Homo sapiens: one gene and its partner. The protein of the gene in region 1 interacts with the protein of each later gene in a biochemical or structural test. Each region holds a gene or a part of one and is shown on either strand. Other genes may lie near its edges.

Evidence for each region.
Region 2: of the proteins of CAPN3 (region 1) and FLNC, one has a biochemical effect on the other in vitro, tested with the Homo sapiens proteins (one study listed by BioGRID).

Annotation. Positions count from the first base shown.
Region 1 is NC_000015.10:42,404,067-42,411,505, reverse strand, and holds part of CAPN3 (calpain-3), read right to left. Parts: intron 6,743-7,439; exon of another isoform or gene 6,551-6,742; intron 5,581-6,550; coding exon 5,563-5,580; intron 3,296-5,562; coding exon 3,182-3,295; intron 2,204-3,181; coding exon 2,126-2,203; intron 1,720-2,125; coding exon 1,662-1,719; intron 1,576-1,661; coding exon 1,511-1,575; intron 1,079-1,510; coding exon 1,010-1,078; intron 919-1,009; coding exon 840-918; intron 623-839; coding exon 506-622; intron 220-505; coding exon 161-219; intron 1-160. UniProt on the Homo sapiens protein: Calcium-regulated non-lysosomal thiol-protease. Proteolytically cleaves CTBP1 at 'His-409'. Mediates, with UTP25, the proteasome-independent degradation of p53/TP53.
Region 2 is NC_000007.14:128,838,282-128,847,472, reverse strand, and holds part of FLNC (filamin-C), read right to left. Parts: coding exon 9,044-9,191; intron 8,871-9,043; coding exon 8,670-8,870; intron 7,451-8,669; coding exon 7,313-7,450; intron 6,926-7,312; coding exon 6,799-6,925; intron 6,640-6,798; coding exon 6,503-6,639; intron 6,304-6,502; coding exon 6,110-6,303; intron 6,020-6,109; coding exon 5,906-6,019; intron 5,243-5,905; coding exon 5,099-5,242; intron 4,899-5,098; coding exon 4,775-4,898; intron 4,680-4,774; coding exon 4,519-4,679; intron 4,245-4,518; coding exon 4,154-4,244; intron 4,066-4,153; coding exon 3,896-4,065; intron 3,678-3,895; coding exon 3,560-3,677; intron 3,470-3,559; coding exon 3,207-3,469; intron 2,816-3,206; coding exon 2,218-2,815; intron 1,484-2,217; coding exon 1,310-1,483; intron 1,173-1,309; coding exon 1,010-1,172; intron 729-1,009; coding exon 568-728; intron 1-567.

The DNA of each region.
Region 1 (7,439 bases):
GTCCTGGGAGCCTGCTGAGCCTCCCTCCATGTTCTGTTCCTATCCCTTCCCTCCACCACTGTGTGGAAATGAGGAGCACACCCTGGGTCCAGTCCGCCCCGTTGACCCCTCCACCTTGAGTTTTAATGTGTAGGGGGAATGTGCTGTGCCTATGCTTTACCTCCAGAACGTTGAGCTTGATGATACCATCTCCATCCTTGTCAAATGCATGAAAAGCTCCTGTGAAAGAATGCACAGGCCAGAGGCCAGTTACAGGCGCACTCCGCCTCTACTACTGTAACTTCCCCTCAGAGGACCATGTGCCCAGTGCTGTCCCTCATCAGCACAAAGATGTGCAGGCAGAGAATCACCAGTAACCCTCCCTTTGCCATCCCATTCTGGGCCTAAAGAGGTCATTGGCCCTTGTTCAGCCTGGATGGAGCAGACTGGAGATTATCAGGTGAGATGCCTGTTGCCACAACTGCCCCTGCAAGAGAGCAGAGGGCAGCCCCCCTCTCCCACTTACTGAACATGCCCTCCAGCCTAACGAAGCAGCAGATGAAACTGTCAAAGTCGATGTTCATGTGTTTGTCTGCGTACCGCATGGTAATGATGTCATAGAGCTGGTTGTTGAGGTGGAATCCTGTGGAGGGGACCATGTTAGAGGTGGACGTGGAGCTGGAGGCCTTGGGCCTGCCTTCTATTTTCCCTGCCTCTCGGCCACTCTGTGACCTGGGAAGGGAAAGTGAGAAGCCCTTTCCCTCTCCTTTCTCTAGTGGGGCCCTAGTAGCCTAGTCCCCTCCCATTCCTGCTCCCACCGTCTCGGGTCCACATCCCTGCCACCCCTTCCTTCTCAGCACCTGCGTCGTTGACTGCATTTCGCATCTCGTAGCTGTTGATGGTGCCGGACTGGTCTGTGTCATAGTGTTTGAAAATTTTCTGGCAATAGAAAATTTGAGGATGGAGGTCACACACTGAATCTCCAAATCAACCCCATTCTTGACTCCCACGCTTCATTTTCTCTTCCCACCTGCCAGGCCTTAATCTTGTTCCAGAGGTGGTGGAACTCCTGCAGGTTGAGCTTTCCAGAGCCATCTGTCTGGAGGAGGGAGGTCAGGGCTACACAGCACACAGCAAAATCCCCCTGGATTTGGAGGGAGGGTCTAGGAGACTCCGGGCTGTCCTACCCACTGCCCTGTTGTACTATTTAACCCTCCCCTCCACTCCACCACCAGTCAGAGATTGCGCCTACTCTGTAACCCAGGAGCCGCTCTCCTAAGGACCACTTTTGCTTGGGCAGGATCCCAGGCCTGAGAGAAGCACAGGGGTTAGGGCAGTTACAACCCAACATCCTCCCCTTCCGCCTCTAACAACCCCTTTCAGACGAGTATCCAAGATGTTCTGAATCAGGGTCTCCTTAAGTTTCCCTGGGCACAAATTAGGGCCCTTTGCCTGACTGGGCACCCTGTATGTTGCCTTGGCCCCCGTGGGCTGATGACAGAGGGTCGGGAAGGGGCGGCAGGAAGGATACATCCATGAGCGCAATCATGCTACGGCAGGACTCCAGTGTGAACCCGTGTGTCTTCAGGTCCTTGTCTGGGGGGATGGAGAAGAGTGAGGAGCTGCTTTGAGACAACGGGACTCCCCACCCACCCCACCCCCATTTGGTTTGAGCAACTCACGTTTGTTCACGACTGTGTTAAGGACCTTCTTGAGCTCATCTGCACAGATCTCCATGTCCTGAGGAGGAAGGGAGAGGAGGGTCATGGTTCAGGAGTACAGCAGCTCCTGGCGCGGACACTTTGCAAAACAAATTCCACCTGGCTGTGTTTGTAAAATCCCTGTCGGTGCTATTATGTCATGGGAAGCTGGGGCTTTTCTGAGGAAGACAGGGGGCCAGATACTGCACCTCAGCTATCAGGACCACCGTGGGCAGCTCAGAGCAAAAAGGCCTCTGAGCCCCCCAGCAGACGTGGCAGTCCAAAACTCAAGGGCTTGTGGATTTGTGTGCTACGCACACATCCCCTGGCTCCACCAAAGTCCAAAGTGACCTCTACCAAACAATAATGAAATAATTGGTAATCTGAGCAGTTAATCCAGGAGAGAAGGAAGCACCTGTGGGCGTCCTGGGCTTGGAGGTACTCACATCTCCTGCTATCTGCTTGAAAATGTTCCGGAATTGTTGCTGTTCCTCACTTTCCTGATCAGAGCTGCCAGGCTGTGGCTGTGGAGGCACAAAGGAAAACTGGTTCACAGGGGTCAGAGGTGCACAGGCCTGTGAGGCAAGCTCCTCTGGGCCAAGGGAGCCAAGTGCCTAAAACGGCCGGAGGTGGCAGCAGGAGCTGGGGACGGGCAAATGCAGACCTGGTGAGCTGGAGTGAGATGCATCGAGGCCTCAGGGACTCTTCACACCTCTCCAGCCCTGACGCCCCCAGCCAAAGGAGATATGGCGGCCATACAGCCTCCTCCCCGCCACCCCAGTCCCCACCTGCAAGAGCCCCCTCCACCATCCCAGGCCTGACCATTCCAACTAAAGGTGCCCGCAGGTCAAAGAAGGTCTGACCGTTCTGATTCCTCCAGCCACCCTGTCATCAAGGCCAAGTCCTCAGAGAACCTCCCCTAGGCCCCACTGCATGAGGCCCCAGATAGAAGAGGGGCTCCCAGACAGAAGAGGGGCCCTGGATAGAAGAGGGGCCCCCGGATAGAAGAGGGGCCCTGGATTGGTCTGGAGACTTTTGCCTCTAAGGCTCACCTCCACTAAGCTCCCACTCCAATCTAACACCCTCCCGTGAGCTCTAGAGGACCCCATTTCTGAAGTCAGCCCCACTTTTCTGCTCCTATCCTTTATCCCCCTATTGTGAAATGCTCAAGGCCACCAGGAGACAAGAGTTGCGCCTCCGCTCTCAAGCTGGTTCTGTCTCAGCCTTTGCCTCCCCTTCTCTGTATCCTGGCTGGATCAGCTCCATGGGAGGCTCAGCCTGCCAGTCCACTCCTAGAATGGAACCCCCATCCTGGGATATTCACCCAAGCAGCAGCCCAAATTTCAGGGGAACTTGCTGAAAGAAAAGGTCAGTGGGACAAATTCAAACCTCCAGATGTTCAAGACAAACTCCTGGGAAGCCTCCAGCCCCTGTGTATCCCAAGCGCATAGGAAGCCCCTGTAGCGTGCTGGCCACCCCACCCATGCCACATGCCCAGACACCTGTGGGGACTGCTTTTGCTTATCAGGGCTTGTTTTGCCTTTGCCCTCCTCTGACTCCTGGTCCACACCCAGCTCCTTGTTGCTGTTTGCTCTGTCCGAAACGAAGATGATGGGCTGGAGAGAGGAGGGAGGAGGCAGGAAGGAAGGGAGGATTACAGTCTGAACAGGCACACTGAGGCAGCACCTCTCTTGGAGCAGCTTTATCCAGTGAGAAGAGGAAAGGAATAGGCGGGAGCTCTTCAACCTCGGTTCAAGCTCTATCTCTGCCACTGACAAGCCGTGTGACTTCAGTTCTTTATCTTTTCATACCCACTCCATCCCTCCTCATGGTAGAGTATTGAGAGCTCAGCACGTGAAATGCTAAGAATGCTAAAAGCAGCATGATCTAGTGCAGTGATTGTCAAGTATTTTGTAGACTTTTTTTTTTCCAGATGGAAACACTGTTCAAATTAAATTTCCTGCAGAAACATGGTGTATATAAAAACACAAGCTTCTCTGATTAATGAGAACAGAGCTCTTTGCCCTCAGCACCCCACATCACCATGGCAGCTACTGAGGCACCTCAAAGGAACCTCTACAACCCTGCAAAGTATAGATTGAAAAAGGACACGGATTAGTGGCATGGTCAGTGGGTGAGCCATCAGAACACTGGGCTGGAATCCCAGCCCTGCCCCTCATATAAGAAATATCCTCTCTGGCCGGGCACGGTGGCTCACGCCTGTAATCCCAGCACTTTAGGAGGCCGAAGCAGGCAGATCACAAGGTCAGGAGATCAAGACCATCCTGGCTAACTGGGTGAAACCCCATCTCTACTAAAGATACAAAAAAATTAGCTGGGTGTGGTGGTGGGTGCCTGTAGTCCCAGCTACTTGGGAGGCTGAGGCAGGAAAATGGTGTGAACATGGGAGGTGGAGCTTGCAGTGAGCCAAGATCAAGCCACTGCACTCCAGGCTGGGTGACAGAGTGAGACTGTCTCAAAAAAAACCAAAAATATCCTCTCTGGCCTCAGTTTACTCATCCTTTAATGGTAAAATCTGCTTTCCCTCCTCATAGGGCTCTTGTGGGGATCAAATGAGATACTGAATGCAAAATCATACTGCAAAAACATTTAAGATGCTACACAAACAAGGGATATTTTCAAGACATGCTCGTGCAAGTGACAAGGATATGAAAAGGACGGAGAGCGGCTGCTGCATGGTGCCAACACTGTGGATGCGGTGCACCTGTAGGGAAAGCCGGGGGAAGGCAAGGCTGTGGGGATTGAGGCTGCAATGCAGAGAACAACTGGGCAGGCAGAGCCTCTCGGAGCAGAAAAGCAGCCCGCCTGGACTCATGCACCACTGCCCTTCCATGCTGCTCATCTAGGACAGCTCAAGCAGATAGACCCGTGGAAACGGCTCCCCAGCTTTGGCTCCCAGCAGGCCCCAGAGGCCTTGGCTTGCTCTGCCTTCTAAGCAGTGTCTTGCTCAAGCAGCTGAAGCTTGTGGGGATCCCAGAGCAAATGGAGGTCACAGTCTGAGGGGGGATGTGTAGGATGGATATGGTGTGGCCATGGAGCATCCCTGCCAGGCACACACTGGCAGGCCCGAGTGTGGGTCTGGACAACACAGGCCTTGAAGTGTAGGGGGCTGGCATCAGAGAAAGAGGGCAAGAAACACAGGTTTTGGAGTAAACAGACATGGTTTCCAGTTCCATTTTCCCCACTCATTAGTTCTGTTCCTTGGGCAAGTTCACTTCTTTGAGTCTATCTCACCTGTGAAAGGGGAAAAATAACAGCACCTACTTTGTAGATACTGTTATAATTGGGGGGGAAAAAAAAGAGAGGGACTGACCCCAAGCACAGTGCCTGGAATGTGGTAGTGCCTGAGGAGTGTCAGCTCTGGTCTGGGCCAGCACCAGTACCTGGAGGACCCCTGTGATGGATCCATCACCACCAGGCACCACCAGAAATGCTAGCACCAAATCTGATGGTGTATGATGGCCTCTTGTGGTTCAGGACACGGACTCTGGACCCAGACTGCCTGGCTCTAAGTACTGGCTCTGCCCCTCTCTGGCTGTGTGGCCTTGGGCAAGTTAGTCAAGTCTGTACCTTTTCTCCCTCTGAAAATGGGGATAGTTATAGTACTAATCTCATAGGGCTGTTGTGAGGAAGGAATTAATCATGGAAAGCACCTAAAAGAGTGCTTGGCACGTAGCCTTCCCCCAGCAAATCGTAGTTGTCATTACTGCACGCTCGGCCCCAGCAGAAGCTCAGGAAGGAGGGGGAGGAAGAGGCAAGTCTGGTGCATGGATGCATATGAGCTCACACATGCACACTTCACATGCATGCACATACATATGCATGAGTACACACACTTCATGCTCTCTACCCACACACCTACCTTGGTTTTTTTCTTTTTCTGCATAAGAAAAGGAAACAGTAAATGCAGAATAAGTGAAAAGTAAGTTCTCAGAACCGCCAGTGGCTTTTGGCTTCCCTGTATCCTGGTCTTTAGCTTGGGGTGGGGCTCCAGGGTCCAGAAATCTGAATCACATGGAGCCAAAAAGGGGCATGGAGGGTGAAGGGAGAAGAGAATTCTTCTTTCTCCTCCATGCCCAGACACCAGTGACTGCTCTGACTTTGTTTTTATAATCTACTCTTACTGCATATGGCAAGGAAAAAGATCTTCTGGCTAAGGTTTTCTTTCTTCCTTTTTTAAAAAATGAAATTGGTGGCCGGGCGTGCTGGCTCATGCCTGTAATCCCAGCACTTTGGGAGGCTGAGGTGGGCGGATTATCTGAGGTCAGTAGTTCAGGACTATCCTGGCCAACATGGTGAAACCCCATCTCGACTAAAAAATACAAAAATTATCCAGGCGTGATGGTGGGCACCTGTAATCTCAGCTACTCAGGAGGCTGAGGCAGGAGAATTGCTTGAACCCGGGAGGCGGAGGTTGCAGTGAGCTGAGATCATGCCATTGCACTCCAGCCTGGGTGACAAGAGTGAAACTCCGTCTCAAAAATAAACAAATAAATAAATAATAAAAAAATGAAATTGGTTACTAAAACACCAAAAACATGGCTCTCTCAAACTGACCTAACAATGGATTTTGACTTACAGAATATTTTTTAAAAATTTTTGAGCAAGCATTTAACATAGGGAGATTTTCTTTGGTAAAAGCCCCAGCTGTGGCAGGCTGCCCTGGGCCTGTAATCCCTGCGGCAACTATCAGCTGAGCCAAGGGCCCTGCTCCCTGTGTCTTCCAGATTGCCCCACGCCCCAACATTCCTGTTGACCCTCGACACTGGAGCGAAATGTCAATTGAGAACTGCAGACAACTGTGTCAGTGCAGGGACATCAAAACCCCTGCACCTGCCTGCTCTACTCACGTGACGTGCCAGCTCCCATAAGCTTTTGGGTTTGCAGGTCCTGATCAATACTGCACACCGATGACCAGCATCCAGATGACCAGAACAGATCCCCACACACCTACCACTAAAACCAATCGCCTGTGGTCATTCAGAAGGCACTTGGAGACCTGGCACTGGCTCAGGGTCAGGATTATGACCATGACTGTCACTGCCCAGAAGACAGTTCAGAGGGGCATTTGTCCTCCCATTGGCCTACGTCATCCCCACAGAGCACAAAGGACTGTCAGCTGACTACAGCCCAAAGCCCCAAGGCAGTCACAAGACTCCTCAACACACAGAGCCCAACACACAGCACTCTGTGCTTCGGACTTTGGGCTTCTCACTGCCTGGGGCTGGCCTCAGCGTGGAGGTGCGGAAAAACCTAAGTCTGGAGTCAGAGAGTCTGAATGTGAGTTCCAACCCTGCCACTTACTGAGCTCTGTGAACTCAGAGAAGTCATTCAACCCCATTGAGCCTCTGCTTCCTTTCTTGAACACCAGGGATTATAACCCCATCTACCTCTCAGCAACCTTGCAAGTATCGCGATGACACATGTGAAAAGTACCTTGTAAGGTGTAAAGTGTGAAAAAGCACCTCTGTTTGAGTGCCCATGCTGTGCCAGACACTTCACATACATCACCTCATTGATGAAGCCTCACAAAAGCCTTGCAAGGCACATTATCATCCCCGTTTTACTGAGTAGGAAACTGAGTGAGAGGGATTACAGAAATTGTCCAGGTCACCCCGCTGGTAAGTGGAGGATCCAAGTGTCAACACCAGGTCCGGCACCAGCTTACTTTCTTTTCTCTATGTGTGAAATCCAATGTTATCCAGTCTCAGAATCCAGTGTTCGCTGCGGCTCTTGTCA
Region 2 (9,191 bases), on another chromosome or scaffold:
TGGAAGAGAAGGCCTTCCTAAATTAATAAAATGTGAAAATAAAATGTTTTCAAAAATGAAATGTATTTCTGACACTGTGGCTGAAATAATAAAAAGATGGGAAATTAGATAAGGGAAAAAATTTCCAATTTCAGCAGTCCCAAGTCATACAATATTTGAAGACATGACCTGCCCGGGCAGCTGGGTCTGCAGAGGGCAGGGGAGTTCTGCAGACGATGCGTGCAAGAAGGCCCAAGGCTGGCCTGAGCCGCCAAGAGGAGTGGACTGTGTCTGAGTTTCTGGACACACAGTGAGTGGTGGACCTGCAAAGCCAAGGTCTTGAGCTCCAGACAAGGGGCTAGGAGGCCAGAGTGTGTTCCTGTGATTGACTAGGGGGGCTGTCACATCAACCCTCATTGCCTGCCTCCTCCACGTCCTCCCTCTGGCCGGGCTCCGGCCCCAACCCACTCTAGGCTGTCCTCTCTATGAACATTCTTACCCAACTTCCTTCCAGTTTCCCCCTTGTGGGGCGAGCATCCTGCACCCTCCCTTGTCTTCCCTGAGACCCCGACCACTCTCTCTGCACACCTGGGATGGGCCGCCCCCCGAAGGTGATGTTGACGTCATAGTCTCCAGGAGTGAAGGGGATGTACTCCACGGTGCAGCTACCATCCTTGTTGTCCTTGCAGGACATCTTGGCTTCCGAGGGACCCTCGATGGCTAGGCCAAGGCCCCCGGTGCCCGCTCCCCTGAGAGATAACATCCCCCCATCAGCTTCATAAGACCAGTGAGTGAGGATGAGGGAGTAGCTGAATGGGGGGACAGGGAGGAAAGAGGGCAGGCCGCTGGGGACCCAGCTGAGGAGAAACGAGCTACAGGGGCCAATCTGGGGTCCTGGAGGGGGTCTGCTCCTGCCTCACCCCTGAGAGAGGATGGGGTGGGGCTGAGGCCCAGGCAGAGGGATGAGCGAGGAGGGCCAGGGGCTGGGAAAGGGTGGTCACAGATTTAGGCTAGCAAAGGGGGAGGATACCTGGTCTCCACAGTGAATCGGTTGGCCTTGTTGACCAAGCCACCCTCCAGGCCTGGCCCGAAGGCTCGGACGCGGGTGGGATCACAGCCCTCGGTCACGCCCACTCGGAAGGGGCTCTTGGGCACAGCGACCTCATCATACAGGACCTCCACCAGATGCACGCCTGGAAGCCAGCCACAGGGGCATCAATCAGGGAGTGTGCGCCCCCACCACCCCTCCTGCCCCGAGGGCAATATCATCAGATCCCGGCCCTGCCCACTTGCCCAGCCCTGCCCACTAGCCTGGCCCACCGGCCCTCACCCTCCTCGTAGGCGGTGTACTGCACTCGGTAGGTGCCGTCCCCATTGTCTGTCACATAGGTGTCTGTCTTGGCCCCCGAGGGGTTGAGCACACGAGCCGTCACGTGGTTGCCGCCTGTGGCTGTTAGGGATCTTGCATCCACAGTGAACTCAGTGGTCACCTCCCGCAGGACACCTGGAGCCCAGGGGTGGCGTGTTCAGCAGGGGTGGGGGCAGCCTTCACACAGATGCTCCCTCTCCTCTCCCCCTCCTTTCCCTCTCCTCTCCCTCTCCTCTTCCCCTCCTCTTCCCCTCCTCTCACCCTCCTCTCCCCCTCCTCTCCCACTCCCCAACTCCCAGGCTGCTCCTCTAATCGGAGCCTGGGCCCCACACCCTCCCCTGCACCTCTGTGAGCTCCAGCCTCTGCCTTCACTCCCTTCTCCATGTAGTGACATTCTCTGTTCACTTGAGTCACCCACCAGGCTGTGGGCCTGGGTCTTGCATCCCTCTGCCGTGGCCCATGCCTAGCCAGGGTCTGGCCCCTGGCAGATGGCCCATTCCCACTTACTGTCTTCTGACTCTTGTCATCCTCTACCCCAAAGCTTTCCCCGTGCCCCCGTCCAGAGCAGAGTTTTAGCTTTTTGGATCAGGGTACCCCTTAAGCACATGAAAGAAGAGATCTCTCCAGAAAAACGCCCAGAGGCAGGTGCAGTTTTGCCACAAGAGCAGAGGCCAATCTCCACCCCCGGTCTTCCCCTCCACTCCTTCTCTGGGGTTTCTGGGCCAGTAAGGACTCTGGGGCTGCTCCGAGAGCCCTCCCTTCACCCCAGGTTGCTCTTCCAGCTCTCAGCTCTTCTTCCCTCCCTCCCACGGACTACCCAGCTCCTGCACCTGCCACTTGACCTTTCTTGGCTCCTCCTGTCCACTCACCGTGTGGCTCAACACCAGGCCCTGAGACCTTGACGCCACTGGTATCGACCGCAGGCTGCACATGGACACGGGTGGGGAATTTGGGCACGGGATGCCCGCCATACTTGATGGTAATGGTGTAGGTGCCAGGGAAGGCAGGGCTGTAGGTGATGTGGTAGGTGCCATCCGCGTTGTTGTGGATCAGCACCTCGGCCTTGACCCCGGCATCCGACAGGATCTCAATGGTCAGCTCCGCCTCGCCTGCCTCTGAGCAGTCCACAGTGAAGGTGGCTGCCTCACCGACCTTGCCGCGCTCCAGGCCCGGTCCACTGGCCCGCACCTTGCTCGGGTCAAACACAGGCCGAATGGTGGCTTTGAAGGGCGAGCCAGGGATGTGGGCCTCAGCAAACAGGATGTTGATGGTGTACTCGCCAGGCTCCGTGGGCAGGTAGCTGACAGCACATGAGCCATCACCATTGTCCTGGCACTCGATCTTGGCCTCGCAGGGGCCCTCTACGGTCAGCCCCAGGCCACCTGTGCCAGCCCCCTTGGTGTCGATGGAGAATGGCGCGGGGGTGCCTACCAGTCCACCCTTGAGACCCGGGCCATAAGCACAGACCTAGGGGAAGAGGCAGGTTGTGGGTTCCCTGCACCTGGCCTCCTCATCCCAGCCTTCATGGCCCCCACCCAACTCATCACCTCCAACTGTGGCTGCTACTGTGGACTGAGTGCTTATAACAATCCCAGGTGATGACATTGAGGCAGCGAGATGAAGCAATTTGCCCCAGTTAGTGGACCTGGGATTCAAGCCCAGGTGTGACTCCAAGGCCAGGCTCTTAATAGCTAAGTTGTCTCCAAGGCAGGTGGTGGGGTGGGGCTGGCCTCAGCCCCACACCCTTGGCTGTGCCCACTCCAGGCACATAAGTCCCTCTGGCCTCTGCCCCCTATGACTCATCTATCTTCCCAACAAGTCCCCAACTCCCAGCCCCAACCAGCTCCTATCTCCTCACCTTGGAGGGATCAGGGGGCAGGACACCCTCCACAGCAAACGGGCTGCCAGGCACCGGGTGACCATCGTAGGTGATATCCACCTTGTAGGGCCCCTCCTCCGGGGGCATGTAGCGCACAGCCTGGGCTTCCGCTCCACCGCCTGGCTCCAGCTTGCAGGGGATGGGCCGGCGAGAGGGCGAAGTCATCCGCACATCCAGTTGGCCCTGACCGCCAGCCCCTCGTGTGTTCACAGAGAATGCTTGTTCCTGTCCCACAGCCACCTCTGCGTGGAGGGCAAGTGACACCATGAGGAGACTCCGGTCCACCCTACCCGAATACCCCTCACTCCCAGGGTGGCTCTTGCCCCACTTACTGCTATTAAGGCCCTGAACTTTGATTTTGCTGAGGTCCAGCGGGGGTGCCACATTCACCACAAAGGGGCTCTTGGGGACAGGGTCCCCGCCATAAGTCACTGTCACTGCCATGTTGCCCTGTTGGGTACAATGGTAGGTCAGAACTGGATATAAGGCAAGGTCCTACAACATCCTGGTGGTGAATATGGGCTCTGAAGCTCAGATCCACCATGAGAGTGAGGGCAGGAGGCAGGAAAGGCGTGGAGGATCCAGAACTGGTCCCATGGGACTGGAGGAGGGAGACCCAGGGCTCTGGCGGGCCGGCCGGGCGGTAGCATGGGAGGGGCAGAGCGCACCTGCTGGACAGCGGTGTACTTGACAGTGTAGGAGTAGTCATGGTTGTCTATGATCTCAAAGTCCCGCACAACCTCGCCCTTGGCTGTCCCTGCAAACTGCACATCCAGCTTGGCCTTGCCGGCTCCCTTGGTCAGCACCGTGAAGTGGGTGGGCTTCCCGACTTCCACACCTGAGGACCCACCCAGAGATGTGGTGAGGGCCTGGCAGCCACCTAACCCCAACCTCGAGCCAGTCCCAGCCCCTGCCCAGACACTCACCTGTGCGATTCAGCCCAGGGCCCTCGGCCTTGACTTTGCTGGCATCGTGGGATGGGTCCACCTTGATGTGGAAGGGGCTGGCGGGGATCTCCTGGATGTGGAGGAGGCTCAGTCAGGGCTCTCGAGGGGAACACACCCCTGCTCTCAGCTAGATGCTGGCTCAGGACACACCCAGGGGACCCAGCATGGACAGGGGCAGCCTCCAAAAGGGCCCCCTTTGCTTCCTCTGAGGCACCCTGCCTCACACAGGTAGGGCTCCACCATGTCTGCGGAATCATCCCTCCCTGTTCCCAGTGACAGCATCTCCAGCTGCCTTCTGGAGCTGGCAGGTGCATGTCGCTGTGAGTACCCAGGAGCTTAGGTACCTGGTTGGCAAACAGCACCATGATGGTGTAGCGGCCCGCCCCTGGTGGCGTGTACTTGACGGTGAAGGTGTCGTTGTCATTCTTGATGATGTCGAAGTCAATGTCAGCCTCTGCAGGGCCCACCACGCCTGGGGCGCACTTGATGCCGATGCTCACGTCGCCTGCAGAGAAGCGGGCACTGCTGTGAGTTGGGCTCAGCCCCCGACTCGACTCACCCCCGCCCCCTCCCAGACCCACCCCTTCCGGCTGGGCGCACCTTGCCCCGCCTCGCTGCAGTCCACCGTGAAGTAGGTGGGCTCATTGGCCTTGAGGCCTGTCTTCTCCACTCCGGGGCCGTACACCTTTACCCGCTCGGGGTGGCTGCCCTCGCCCACGTTCACCTGCGGGAGGGGTCGCAGCTCAGCGTGGTGCCCTCCCTCAAGGCTCATCCTCCTGCCCAGCGCACCCGGCCCAGCCTCAGTGGCACCAGCCCAAGCCTCAGTCCCAGCCTGAGCCCAGGGACAACAGGGACTCCAGCGAGGGTTCCGCCCTCCCTCAGGGACCCCTGGTGGTGGGCACGGGGCAGGCCGGGAGGACGCACCCGGAAGGGGCTCTTGGGCACGTTTACGCCTCCCCAGGAGATGATGATGGTGTGCTTAATGGGCTTGGTGGGCACGTAGGAGCAGCGGAAGGTGCCGTCGCCGTTGGGGATCACCTTGATGTCGATGGGACAGCCGTCGGCGTCCTGTGGGCATCACCCAAGCAAAGTTCATAGCTGTGGCCTCTGCAGAGCGCCCTCTGCTGGCCGCAGGTGAACCCAGCGCCTCCTTTCCCACCCCCAACACTGGCACTCCCGCCCCCACACCAGCCACTGAGGCCACCAGAGCCCAGGGCCACGTGCTCTGGCGGCCAGAGCCCACCCTGGGAGCCTGACTCAAGGCCATCTGTATGGCTTGCTCTCCCAGCCTAGGTTTCCTCAACTCTGAAATGTGTTGGACAGGAAGAGTGTGGGCTAAATTTATGTTCCTAAAACTGAATCATGAGCCTTTCAAAGAAGAATCACCCTCTTAGATCCTCAAGAATATGTTCATTAACCTCTAGGGGTCAATGGACACCAGTCTGAGAAACTGACTTGGGAAACCAGTGTCTTATTCAATGAAACAATCTTTCAATTACAAATTAGCACAAAAATGACTCTTTGGTAAAATACGTTTTTAGGTTATCATCGTTAAGAAAACACAAAATTTAAAATTTTCCATGGTACTGATGGGCCCATGAGTATCAGTCCTGCCTGATCTTCTGTGATGCTGTCATTTCCTGCTGGGAGGCCTCTGCCTCTGGCCTGGCCCTGCCTTCCAGGGTCCCTGCCATGGGTAGTAAGGGCAGCAGAGACTGGACAATGACCTACCTGGGCATAGAGCTTCAGGTCTCCCTTGCCAGCTGCACGAGCATCAATGGTGAACTCAGCGGGCTTGTCCACGATGCAGCCGGTAGGCTCCAGGCCAGGCCCAAAGGCCTTCACCTGTGCGGAGGGAAGAAGGCTGAGTTGGGGAGGGGAGGAGAACCAGCTTGCCCCACCCCCGGGGCAGGTGTGTGTGAGCTGGGACCACACCTTATCTGGGAAGCAGTCAGGTGGGGCGGGCAGGATGTGGGCAATGAAGGGTGAGTCTCGGATGTCCTCATCGTCACAGATGACGTGCACAGCGTACTCCCCAGGCTCCGTGGGCCAGTACCGCACATCGCAGGAGCCATCCCCCTTGTCGTCACATTCGATCTTGGCTTGTGAGGGCCCCTCGATGGAGAAGCCTGGGGCAAGGTGGGGGAGGGTCGGGGATCCAGCATCAGGCAAGACCCTTCCGTCCCCCAGCTCCCCTCTAGCTGCCCTCATGTCCTATCTCCCTGCTCACCCCAGCGCTCCCCAGCATGCGCACTGCACCCATTACCCACAGTGTCCCCTGCTGCCCTCCCCCGCAGCACTCCCTCCTCCTGCCCCCCAGCCACTTACCCAGTGTCCCCACCTCGGTGCCAATGGCTTCCACCACAAAATCGGCTGACTTGCCCACCTGGCCAGTCTCCAAACCAGGACCCCAGGCCCGGACCTTTTGCACTCCTGCCTCTGGGCTCACCTGTACCTCAAAGGGGCTGGGCAGAGAGGGAGCTGGTGTCCATGCCAGGAAGTGCCCCCCAAAGTCCCTCGCAGCCCAAACTCCATCTCCCCTCAAACTCCCTCGCAGCCCAGTGCCCCTCGTCCCTCCCTGTGATGGCCTAGACAGGACAGCATGGGGGGCGCAAGGTACTCACCTGCGAGGGATGGCGTAGCCGCCCCACGTGATGGTCACCACATACTTCCCAGGCACCACCGGGTAGTACTCGCACTCGAACACACCATCCCCAGCCTCCCGCACCTTCACTGGCTCCTCTGTGCCCTCTGAGGAGATGGGGGCAGGGTGGGGAAGAAGGCAGATCAATATCCTTGAAGTCCCAGCTCCTCAATCCCCTCAAGGAGCCATTGGGACCCCGACCCAGCCCGAGGGCAGTGCTGTAGTGAGCAGTGCTGCAACTCAGGGCAGGGAACACTTGTCATCCCTGTGCATAACACCCCGTATAGCACTTAGGGTGGAGAGAATCATTCCTGGCTTGTAGACCAAGAAACTGAGGCAGAGAGGAGACAATGAGCCTGAGATTCTGGGGTGCCTCTGGTCACTGTGGAGCTGTGGTGCTGGCTGTCACTGCCCTCTGGGAGTCAGAACCACTGGCCATACTTCCCTTATGATCCCCCAGCCCCACCCTCACGACCCTGGGCTCTGGCACTCACTTGGCCCCTTGACCGTGACCTTGAGCTCCCCGCTGCCGGCACCCTTGGTAAACACCTTGAAGTCAGCCACCTCTTTCACGCGAACACCCTTGGGCTGCAGGCCTCGCCCAGAGGCGCGGCAGGCGTTGGGGTTACAGGCTAGGGGAGGAAGAGAAAGGAGGTTGGGGGTGCTGAGGGGCCTTGGACCACTAGCCCCCACCTCCCTGTGCACAGTCCTTCTAACCCCTCCCAGGCACAGGCAGTGGCCCACGGCCCTGCTCTGGAGCCCTTTGTGTCCCCAGCACAACCGGGGCTGCCGGGCTGGAGCTGGCTACAGGCCCCAGATCAGGCAGGTTACAAGAAAGTTTCCGAGCCAGTGCCACTGGGGAAATGCATGGCAGAGCCTGGGCTGAGAGTGGGCTCAGAGAGACAGGGAAGGCCCCTTTACCCAGCCCAAGGCCATCCATCTAGAGCCCTCTGGGCCTCTCAGGGCACCAAAGCAACCTTAGGATCTAAGTCATGCCACAAAACATCCAGCAATGCCACAGAACAAGGGCTACTTCATAGAACTCGAAGCCTGCCATACAACACAGGCAACGTGTGGACATCAGCCTACCACAGACCGTGGCCAGTGGCAATGAGCCCAGGCCTTGCTATGGAACACAGGCAAAGGAATGGGAATCTCAGCCTGCCACAGAATCCAGAAAAATGGCATGGGACCCACAGGTGCTACGAAACAGGACACGACACATATTCCAGGACTACCATGACCATAGGCGATGGCACTGCCCAAGGGGTACCACGGAACACAGGCAATGGCTCAGAGCCCAGATTTCATCATAGAAATCACCAGGCAAGTGGCAAAGACACTAGACCTGCCACAGAACACAGACAACGGCATGGAACCTGGGGCCTGCCACAGAATGCCAAGGAAGGGGGGGCGATTCCACACGGCCCGGGCCATGCCACACAGCACAGGTGAGGCCAGTCAGCTGCGGCCATGCCTGGCCCCGCCTCCACTGGAGAGCATTAATGTGGCATCACTCTCGGCCTGGTGGACGATGGGCACTGAGTGCAGGGAGAGAACAAGTGGGGCAGTCACCACCTGAGGGCTTGGCATGCAGGCAGTACTCCCTAGATATGCCCCCACCCATACAGCCCCGTCACTTCCGCTCAGCCCTCCCAGGGTGGCACATGTTCTGGGACCCTTCACTGTGGCCTCCCAGCTGTGCTCTTAGGAACTCCAGCCACCTTGGGGGTGGGATGGAGGACTCAGGGAGGGGGTCTCTGCAGACCCCCGCCCCAGCTCTTCCTCCTGCCCCTTGCAAGCCTCTGGCTTTGGTAAGGGCTACCGTGGGGAGCAGTGAAGGGCCCTTACCTTCCGACACATGGACAGGGAAGGGACTGCGGGTGATGGGGGCACCCGCAAAGGCCACATGCACGGTATGTGGCCCCTCCATGGCAGGTCTGTATGTGCAGCGGAACGTGCTGTCACCCTTGTCCTCCAGGGCCACCTCCACTGTGTCCCGCCGGCCCTGTGGGTCCACGATCACCACAGCAACATCGCCAGTGCCGGCCCCTGCCGAAAACAGAGGCTGTCAGCACCACTCTGGACACACACAGCTGCCCCGGTGCCCTCACCCTGAGGCTGCCCACCCTCTGGCTGGCATCCCTGTCCCAGCCTCCCCCCACCCCCACACAGCCCCACATGGTCAGGGGCTTTCCACCTGCACCCCCTGGGGCCCGTCCTACCCGCAGTGTAGATGTCAAAGTAGGTGGGTTTGTTGGCCACATTGCCCACAGGTTCCAGGCCAGGGCCACGGGCTGACACCTTGTTGGCATCTCCCAGGGCCATGCCCACGTTCACCTCAAAGGGACTGCGTTCAATGTTCTGGCCAGC